Linked DNA regions of Homo sapiens: all the other regions are linked to region 2. The links come from fine-mapping of genetic effects on gene expression. A gene starts in region 2. Each other region holds a variant in brackets. All regions are shown on one strand. Distances are between the middles of the regions. Region 1 overlaps DGKH (diacylglycerol kinase eta). Region 2 holds the start of LINC01050 (long intergenic non-protein coding RNA 1050). Region 3 has its middle 4.8 kb from the start of LINC00428.

Evidence for each region. PIP is the estimated chance that this variant, and not a neighbour inherited with it, causes the effect.
Region 1: its variant is fine-mapped to the expression of LINC01050 in lymphoblastoid cells (GTEx, PIP 0.95).
Region 3: its variant is fine-mapped to the expression of LINC01050 in monocytes (Quach 2016, PIP 0.94).

Annotation. Positions count from the first base shown.
Region 1 is chr13:42,138,737-42,141,502 of GRCh38, reverse strand. The region is part of intron 3 of DGKH (diacylglycerol kinase eta); the gene reads right to left. Among named protein-coding and RNA genes, the nearest start is that of DGKH, 91 kb to the right of the region's middle. The variant GC/C (reference allele first, on the strand shown) is at 1,576.
Region 2 is chr13:42,811,116-42,813,881 of GRCh38, reverse strand. LINC01050 (long intergenic non-protein coding RNA 1050) reads left to right here and starts at 1,320. Exons shown (of 3, transcript NR_125747.1): 1 at 1,320-1,490; 2 at 2,040-2,363.
Region 3 is chr13:42,876,187-42,878,952 of GRCh38, reverse strand. No RefSeq gene overlaps it. Among named protein-coding and RNA genes, the nearest start is that of LINC00428, 4.8 kb to the right of the region's middle. The variant T/C (reference allele first, on the strand shown) is at 1,437.

The sequences.
Region 1 (2,766 bases), 670 kb after region 2:
ACTAGTTCAACCGTTGTGGAAGTCAGTGTGGTGATTCCTCAGGAATCTAGAACTAGAAATGCCATTTGACCCAGCCATCCCATTACTGGGTATATACCCAAAGGACTATAAATCATGCTGCTATACAGACACACGCACATGTATGTTTGCTGCAGCACTATTCACAATAGCAGACTTGAAACCAACCCAAATGCCCAACAATGATAGACTGGATTAAGAAAATGTGGCACATATACACCATGGAATACTATGCAGCCATAAAAAATGATGAGTTCATGTCCTTTGTAGGGACATGGATGAAGCTGGAAACCATGATTCTCAGCAAACTATCTCAGGGACAAAAAACCAAACACTGCATGTTCTCACTCATAGGTGGGAATTGAAGAATGAGAACACATGGACACAGGAAGGGGAACATCACGCACTGGGGCCTGTTGTGGGGTTGGTGGGAGGGGGGAGGGATAGCATTAGGAGGGTTCAGCACACCAACATGGCACATGTATACATATGTAACTAATCTGCACGTTGTGCACATGTACCCTAAAACTTAAAGTATAATAAAAATAAAAATAAAAAAATAAAAAATAAATAAAAATATAAAATTTTTTTACTGCCAGTAGCTTATTTTCCCGTATTAGGCCCCTATTCCACATACTTACATGAGACAAGCCATTGTCTTTTACAGAGTTTGAGGCTTTAGTCTGCACCACAAAAAGGGACCAGAAGTGAGAGTCAATCTAAATGAGTACAGGACTAAAGAGCCTTCAACAAAACACTTCAGCCACATCAAGACCACAGTGACGTCTAGGTAAATTCCATTGCCCTTCTTCAAAAAGTACATCAGTATATCAGTCAGGTGGGCAAAAGAAGAATAAACCCTTCATAGCACTCTGCATAGCTTAGAAGCCTCTGTATAACAGAGTGGTTGGTGGAACTTGGGCTGCTGGTCCAAAACTTGACCCATCCTTGCCTGTTTTCATGCAGTAACTCTCAGAAGAGACAGGTTTTAGAAGTTTACTTCCACACAGCTACAGGCTGTGTCTCCAGGATCATGGTGACAATGACAGTATCAGCTCAGGACCATCTATTTGGAGTCTGTAAAAGGCCTCGTATAGGAACACATGAGTGAACTGCAGATTTATAACCAGCCCCAAGACCAGGAGGCAGCACAGCACGTGGCCATGCACTGGGAGCTACAACATGGCACACACACTGGGAAGGTCAGTCCTCCATGATACAAGGTTATAACTGGCCAAGCTTTTCATGTGACAGCAGTCTGCCACTGGCAATCCACAAGGTGCCAAAGGCTAAAGGCCACCTAGGAAATCAGCTTCATAAAACATGGATATTCAGACTCAGGGATAAAAAGTTCTACACAGTGGCCAGGGTTTGGCCTCAGAAATACTGGGAGGGGGGCATGTTTGTGGAGAAGAGCAGATGAACTAGTCTCACAGAAGTTTGTTTATGGAATCCTGAATGGTCTGGGCCTCAAGTTCTAAGAAGATTGTAATTCCGTCCCCTCCTTCCTATAACCTGGGCCCCTATGATGGCACAGTTTCCAGTCCCAGTTGGGAG[GC/C]GAGTTCCTCGTTTTTGGTATCCAAATAATCCTATTCACAAGGCCACATACTTTAAAGACAGGGACCTATCCCTGAAGGCAGGCAGCATAGCCTTTAAATTTGTTTAAATTCAAGCAAAAACTTTTTAAAAATTTGGTACTCAGTGGCCAATTTTTTTTATTTAGCACTGTATATCCAAAATCTAGCACAAATGCCTGCTATATATAATGAACTCTTCGATAAATATTTGTTAAATAAATGAATGAATGAATTCTAAGGGCAGTCCTGGAAGTGGACAGATAGATGGGGAGTGGGCTGCTGTGCAACAGACTAGGACAGAAAAAGTACTAGAGGCAGCAGGTTGAAGGTTACTGAGCAGGAGCACTATGTTTTCCGAGTCATGGATCTTCAGTAAGGGCAAGGGGAACATGGTAACACCAGGCACAGCAAATGATCATGACACCCTGACTGAAAGTCCGACACAGCTCTTTGGATGACAAGTGCCCTCTCCCAACCTATTGATAGTGTCTATTAACCACCTCGGACCCTTTGATGAAACTGATCTATGTCCTGGGACTCCCCTGGTCTGGTTTTGCAAGCAAGTCCTAGGTTCCCAGAGCTCCAGAGTTGGCAGAAGAACCGAGGACATGCTCACTGGGTCTTGCCTTACTTTAGAAAGCCCATTTGAAAGATTTCTGGAAGGCTACTAGTGAAGGTGGAGACACCGGTTCTGTTCTTCTTCCACACCTTATCTTCACCCCAAGATTTTCGTCTAGCTACAAAAGGACCAATGGTTTCTTACGCCCTAAGACTTTGGTGTGAGGAAGCCAATAATAACCTTAAGAGCTATTTCTCTGGGTTAGTCTTGGAAAAGATGCTATATCACTAAATAAAAAGATAAATATGAAACACCCACAGAAACAAAGATAAGATATTTCATTTCTAAAAGCCCCTAATTTCTAAGATAGAAAAAGGAATATGAATTTTAAACTTAACATAAATTATCAGCTTTCAGAGTATAAAGCCATCTAAATTGTACTTAAATCAGTTTTAAAAGGCAAAAAACACAACCACTTAAATTGCATTAATATGGCATCATTTTAGAGTGCTATAAAATATTTTAACTAATATAAATGTTAAAATATGAGGTTTGCTGCTATCAGTCATCTAAAAATTATGTAAGCAAAGGTGGGACCACTGCAATGATTAA
Region 2 (2,766 bases):
GCATATTTTTAAGAAACACATTTCGAAAATTAAATGTAGGTGTGAACCCTTCGCCACACCCAAAGAACCATTCTTGACACTCATGCAGAACATTTTATGCCCCAGTTTGAATATCTGACTTTGGTTTATCTCACTGATACCTGTAGCCCCTCCAAAGTAGTGGTAGACAGAGCTGAGACAAGAAATTTCACAGCTTTTTCCTATTGTGGAACAAACAATCTGAGTTTAAAACATATTGACTTACTGAATTAAAGTAAGTCACTCCACCTCTTAAAGACTCAGTCACACATCCAATTTTCCAGGGGCCTGTGGCCACTGAGTGTCACAGAGTGTGGAAGGCTGTAGGGGCCAGTCCAGAGGAGAGACCACATGGCCTGATTGCCCAGTAGAAATTGATATTCACAAAAGAATGCTGGCTCAAAAAAATAAATTGAAAAAAAAAAAAAAACCCCAGCAACACAGTGAACAGGTGGCTTAGTATGGCTGGCCGTGCTTGCACTTTTTAATGACCTGATTTGTTTCCAAAATTTGTTTTAGGTAATGTATTAGTCTGTTCTCATGCTGCTGTAAAGAACTACCCAAGACTGGGTAATTTATAAAGAAAAGAGGTTTGATTGACTCACAGTTCCACAGGCTGTACAGGAGGCATGGCTTGGGAAGCCTCGAGAAATTTACAATCATGGCGGAAGGCAAAGGGGAAGCCAGCATGTCTCACATGGCAGGAGCAGGAGGAATAGAGAGCAGGAGGAGGTGCTACACATTTCAAAAAGCCAGATCTCATGAGAACTCACTCACTATCATGAGAACAGCAAGGGGGAAGTCCGCCCCCATGATCCAGTCACCTCCCACCAGACCCCTCCTCCAACACTGGGATTACAATTTGACATGTGATTTGGGTGGGGACACAGGGTCAAACCATATCAGGTAACAAAACTCCAGTCTCAAAAATGGTAAGTCAATTTTATTGCTATTATAATTCTTAAAACTGGTGTTGATGATGATGATGATAGCAGTTATTTGTACAGTAACATGCCCAAGACAAATCCCAAGAGAGGAACATAAACAAAATCAAGTGGGGAGATTTGACTTTGCCCAAGTTCTTCTCAACTAGAAATTTCTAAAGGTGTTTTGTGTGGAGTGCTGCGCTATGTGCAGTTTTCAGCTATTCAACCTCAAGGATGTCAAATTGTTGGAAGAGATTCAAAGAAGGATAATCAAACTTGGATGGAGCTGACTTAAAGAAATGGGCTAACCTCCAGAAAGAATGCCATTGAATCCAGAGAGAGGTGCCGTTGAATCAGCCCTTGCTGATGAAGCCTCTTCACTGTACTGCTCAGACCTCTCCATCCTGGTGGCAAGGGCTTAGACCATTATTCATGGTCTGACTGGCCTCGAGGTGGCTGTCTCGCCTTTGAAAAAGGGCAGACACAGAGCATGTTCAGAGCACGGAGCCATACTGTGCGATTTCTTCAAAGAGAGCTTAACCACAGGTTTGTCACAGACTCCTCTTGCTCCTTCCTTCCAATTTAGTCCTTAAATGTGGTCCAACTACAACAAGAGGGAAGTCTCACAATCTAGAATATTGGGGGTTTTGTCACTATTCATTTTTATTAATAGAAAACAAACCTTTATTCCAAATTTGTTATACTTGAAATTGCTAATTTAAAAAAATGAATTTAGGGCTGAGGTGGGAGGATCATTTGAGGCCAGGAGTTCGAGACCAGTCTGGACAACATAGTGAGACCCTGTCTCTAAAAACACTGGAAAAACAGTTAGCTGGGTATGGTGGCAGGTGCCTGTAGTCCCAGCTACTCAGGAGGCTGAGGCAGGAGGATCACTTGAGCCTAGGAGTTGAAGGCTGCAGTGAGCTATGATAGTGCCTCTGCACTCCAGCCTGGGTGACAGAGCAAGAAACTGTCTCCAAAACAAATATATTGAATTGAAAATAATCACGTAATAATCTTGCTTTGACTAAGACAATGAAACTGTGGCTTTTAAAAAAAAAGTATTTTAGCACCATATGCTCATTTGTCTTTCAGAATTTGGATTAATGAATGACGTAACTGCTTCAGGGCAACACACCCTCACTGCAGCTGCTTAGCCCAGGAAGCAGCAAGGTCAATACAAGGAGAGCCACAGGCCTGGGGAGATGCATGCCTTCCTTCCTGGCCACGTGGATCTCACTACTTAGCCCAGATGGCCTGCGAGAAGGACAAAGCCAAGCACTTCACAACACTGTCAGTTGCTGTCCTGAAGAAGGTGGCCAGGAGCTCTAGAAGGATTCAAAGCCCCAGGGATTTTTGGTTTTTATGTATACACTTCTCTTTACATACTTGTTCCTCAACATCCAATCAGCCTTGCAGGTTTGTCCCCGCTCCTAGCATTCAGAAACACTCAAGAGCAGGGTGGGTCAGAGCTCTCCACCACATACGCAGCAGAGTGAAAGAAGCTGCCCTGCAGGACAGCTCCAGGCTCATGGCCACCCCTCCTCACATGCATACCTCCTCCTCTTCCACCAAACAACAACAAACTCCTTCATGTAGCATTCACGCCCTCCTCTTGTGGCCTCTACCTGCCATCCCACACCAATCCCTTTTTATGTCCCCACAGGTACCCAGGAGTCTCCCCTAACTAAATTCCCCACTGCTTCTCCAAATCACCCCAATCCTACTTCCCACTGAAACTAACAAGAAGGGAAGGAAGGTGTTAACAAATGAAGTCTTCGAAGGAAGTCACCCCAAGAATCTGGGCCTACTAGTCATTCCC
Region 3 (2,766 bases), 65 kb before region 2:
TCTGGGCAGTGGACAAGAAAAACCCACTGGGTGGTTATAAAAGCAGGCCAACTGGAGACAAGCCAAGTCCGTGACCTAGGAACTGTAGAATCCAGTTTTGGAAAGCACCCTAGGTATCTATTTTAACCATTACCCAATGCATAACTAAATGTACATGTAGAGATGGTTTATGAAGAGTCAATAACTATTATGATAGGCCCAGCTTATCTGTCTGTTATTTGATTCTCTTCCCTTAATGCTTAGTCCTTAATGTGGAGATTGTTTTACAGTTGTCAAAATCATCTTTCTCCTTTTCTTTTTTTCCTTCCTTCCTTCCTCTCTTTCTCCTTCTCTCTTTCCTGTTTCTCTTTCTTTTCCTTCCTTCCTTCCTCTTTCCACAAACATTTGTTGAGTGCACACTATATTGGTGTTGTGTAGGAAAATAACACATAGCTCTTGCCCTTAGGTGTTTATAGTTAATTACAGGGAAAACCATCTTTTAGTTTTTACTTTTTCAACATGTGGTGATTAAGTGCAGAAAGAGCAAGTAAAAATGTAAGATGAGGAGCTTAAATCTTCCTGTCGAAAATAAGGGAAGAAATTTCTCCACTCCTTTTTTCTCTTTCAGAATGTTTTCCCTGGCCGGGCGCGGTGGCTCACGCCTGTAATCCCAGCACTTTGGGAGGCCAAGGCCGGCGGATCACGAGGTCAGGAGATCGAGACCATCCTGGCTAACATGGTGAAACCCCATCTCTACTAAAAAATAAAAAAAATTAGCTGGGAGTGGTGGTGGGCGCCTGTAGTCCCAGCTACTGGGGAGGCTGAGGCAGGAGAATGGCGTGAACCCAGGAGGCGGAACTTACAGTGAGCCGGCGATTGCACCACTGCACCTCCAGCCTGGGCGGCAGAGCGAGACTGTCTCAAAAAAAAAAAAAAAAAAAGTTTTCCCTGTCCTTTTCTATGTATGTGAATCTTTTTAGTGGCTAAATAAGCCTCTGGGCTACCTCACAATCTGGAGTGTTTCTTCAAGGACCTGGACGTCCTCTCTTCCTTGATGTAATCATCAAGGAAGCTAAGGCTTTAGCTTCCGGTTTCCTAAGAGGAGAGGGGTGTAACTTCAGTTGTTGTCTGACTCCAAATTGCAAAGCCTAACTAATGGTAATGGGTTGTATCCCCTTAGCTATAAAAGAGTGAGAGTTCTTTCTGGTCTTTGCCATTTCTTTAGCAGATTGCCTGTAATGTGCATCACTTTCTGGTTTAATGCTTATTTAATAATAAAATAGTTTTCCTTTTACCTTTGTAGAAAGCTTTTCTGGGTTAGGAGGACATTTCGTTTTTAATTATATTTTCCCAGGAGTGCTCACTATGTGCCAGGCACTCTTCCAGGCACCAGAGATATAGCATTAAATAAGACAGAAGCTGCCCTCATGAGCTCATATTCTAGGACAGATAGACAC[T/C]GAACAGTAAGAATAATATCTAAGGAAATCATGCAGGCAGCACATTAGAAGGCGGGGCGGGGGGGGGGTGGTAAGTGCAGTAAGCCATGTGTAAACAATCGAGTGTGATGAGCTGTGTAAAGAACAGTGGGAGTTTAAAGGAGAGAGAGGTAAGTTATCCTGGGGCAGTTGAGGACTTGATGTTTGAGCTGAATCTTGAAAGATGAATGGTTTTGAAAATAGCTCATTGCTTTAGGGGAGGAGTGGAGCTGGTATTCTAGGAAGTGGAAGATATTTGATCAAAGAAATATACATGACAGCAGAGTACATTAGGGGAAGTCTGCATAATCAGCATCTCATTTGATACCATCAACAACCAGAGGCAGAGATTTTTTTTCTTGTTCTTCCTTTTTCTCTCTTCTCCTGCTCCTTTCTCCTACTCTCTTGTAATGATTCATACTGTTGACACATATTGAGTTTACTATCAGCTAAAATCTTTAAACTTTTTCACACACATTGTTCCTGAGTCATAGCACCCTAATCTGTACTTGTTGGCATACGTTTTATTCTCGGTAACCTTGTAGGAGTTTGTGTGTGTGTGTGTTGTGTATTGAAGAAGAGTTGGAGAAGAGACCGAAGTAGTTAGGCTGAATAAAATAGAACTCTGGAAATGATGACAGGCATCTCCCATACTTAAAGGTCTATCATAGGAAGAGAAATCCATTCTTTTTTTTCTATGTGATTGTTAGAACTAGTGGGTGGTACTTTAGGGATATAGATTTCTACTCTATGCCAAGAAAAGCTTTTAGAAGTTGATTTCAGAATTGACCAGGTACATCTCTAAAGAAATCCCTTGGGGAGAGGGTGAGGTCTTGGAAAAAATACAGACTCCTGGGCCCCATCCTTGACTTACATCACAAATCTTGTTACCAGGGACCAGGAATTTGCATAACAGGCTCTCAAGGAAATCCCTAGGTACACTGAAATTTGAAAACTTCAAGAGAATTAACATACCTTTTCTTTGAGAGCCCTTTCAACCTGGGGAAACTTTGATCCTATGAGACCCTAGAAAGGGGAACCACAGAACATTCATTTTCTTTGGGGTGTGGTGAGTCTGATGACTGTGTAACTAGGATGATTATTGAGAACTGAAACTAAAGTCCTTAGCTCCCCAGTCAACTGAACAGGCTGCCTCTTGGCCAAGAGGACCCCAGAGAAACCTTTTAAAAACTGAGTTTCTGGCCATCACAGGACGAGAGGTCAGATGCACCTCTTTATCTTCCCTCCCTTTTGTGGTTTAGACACAACATCTGACCAGCATTAATGTTGAAATAGAGATCACGAGACTGTC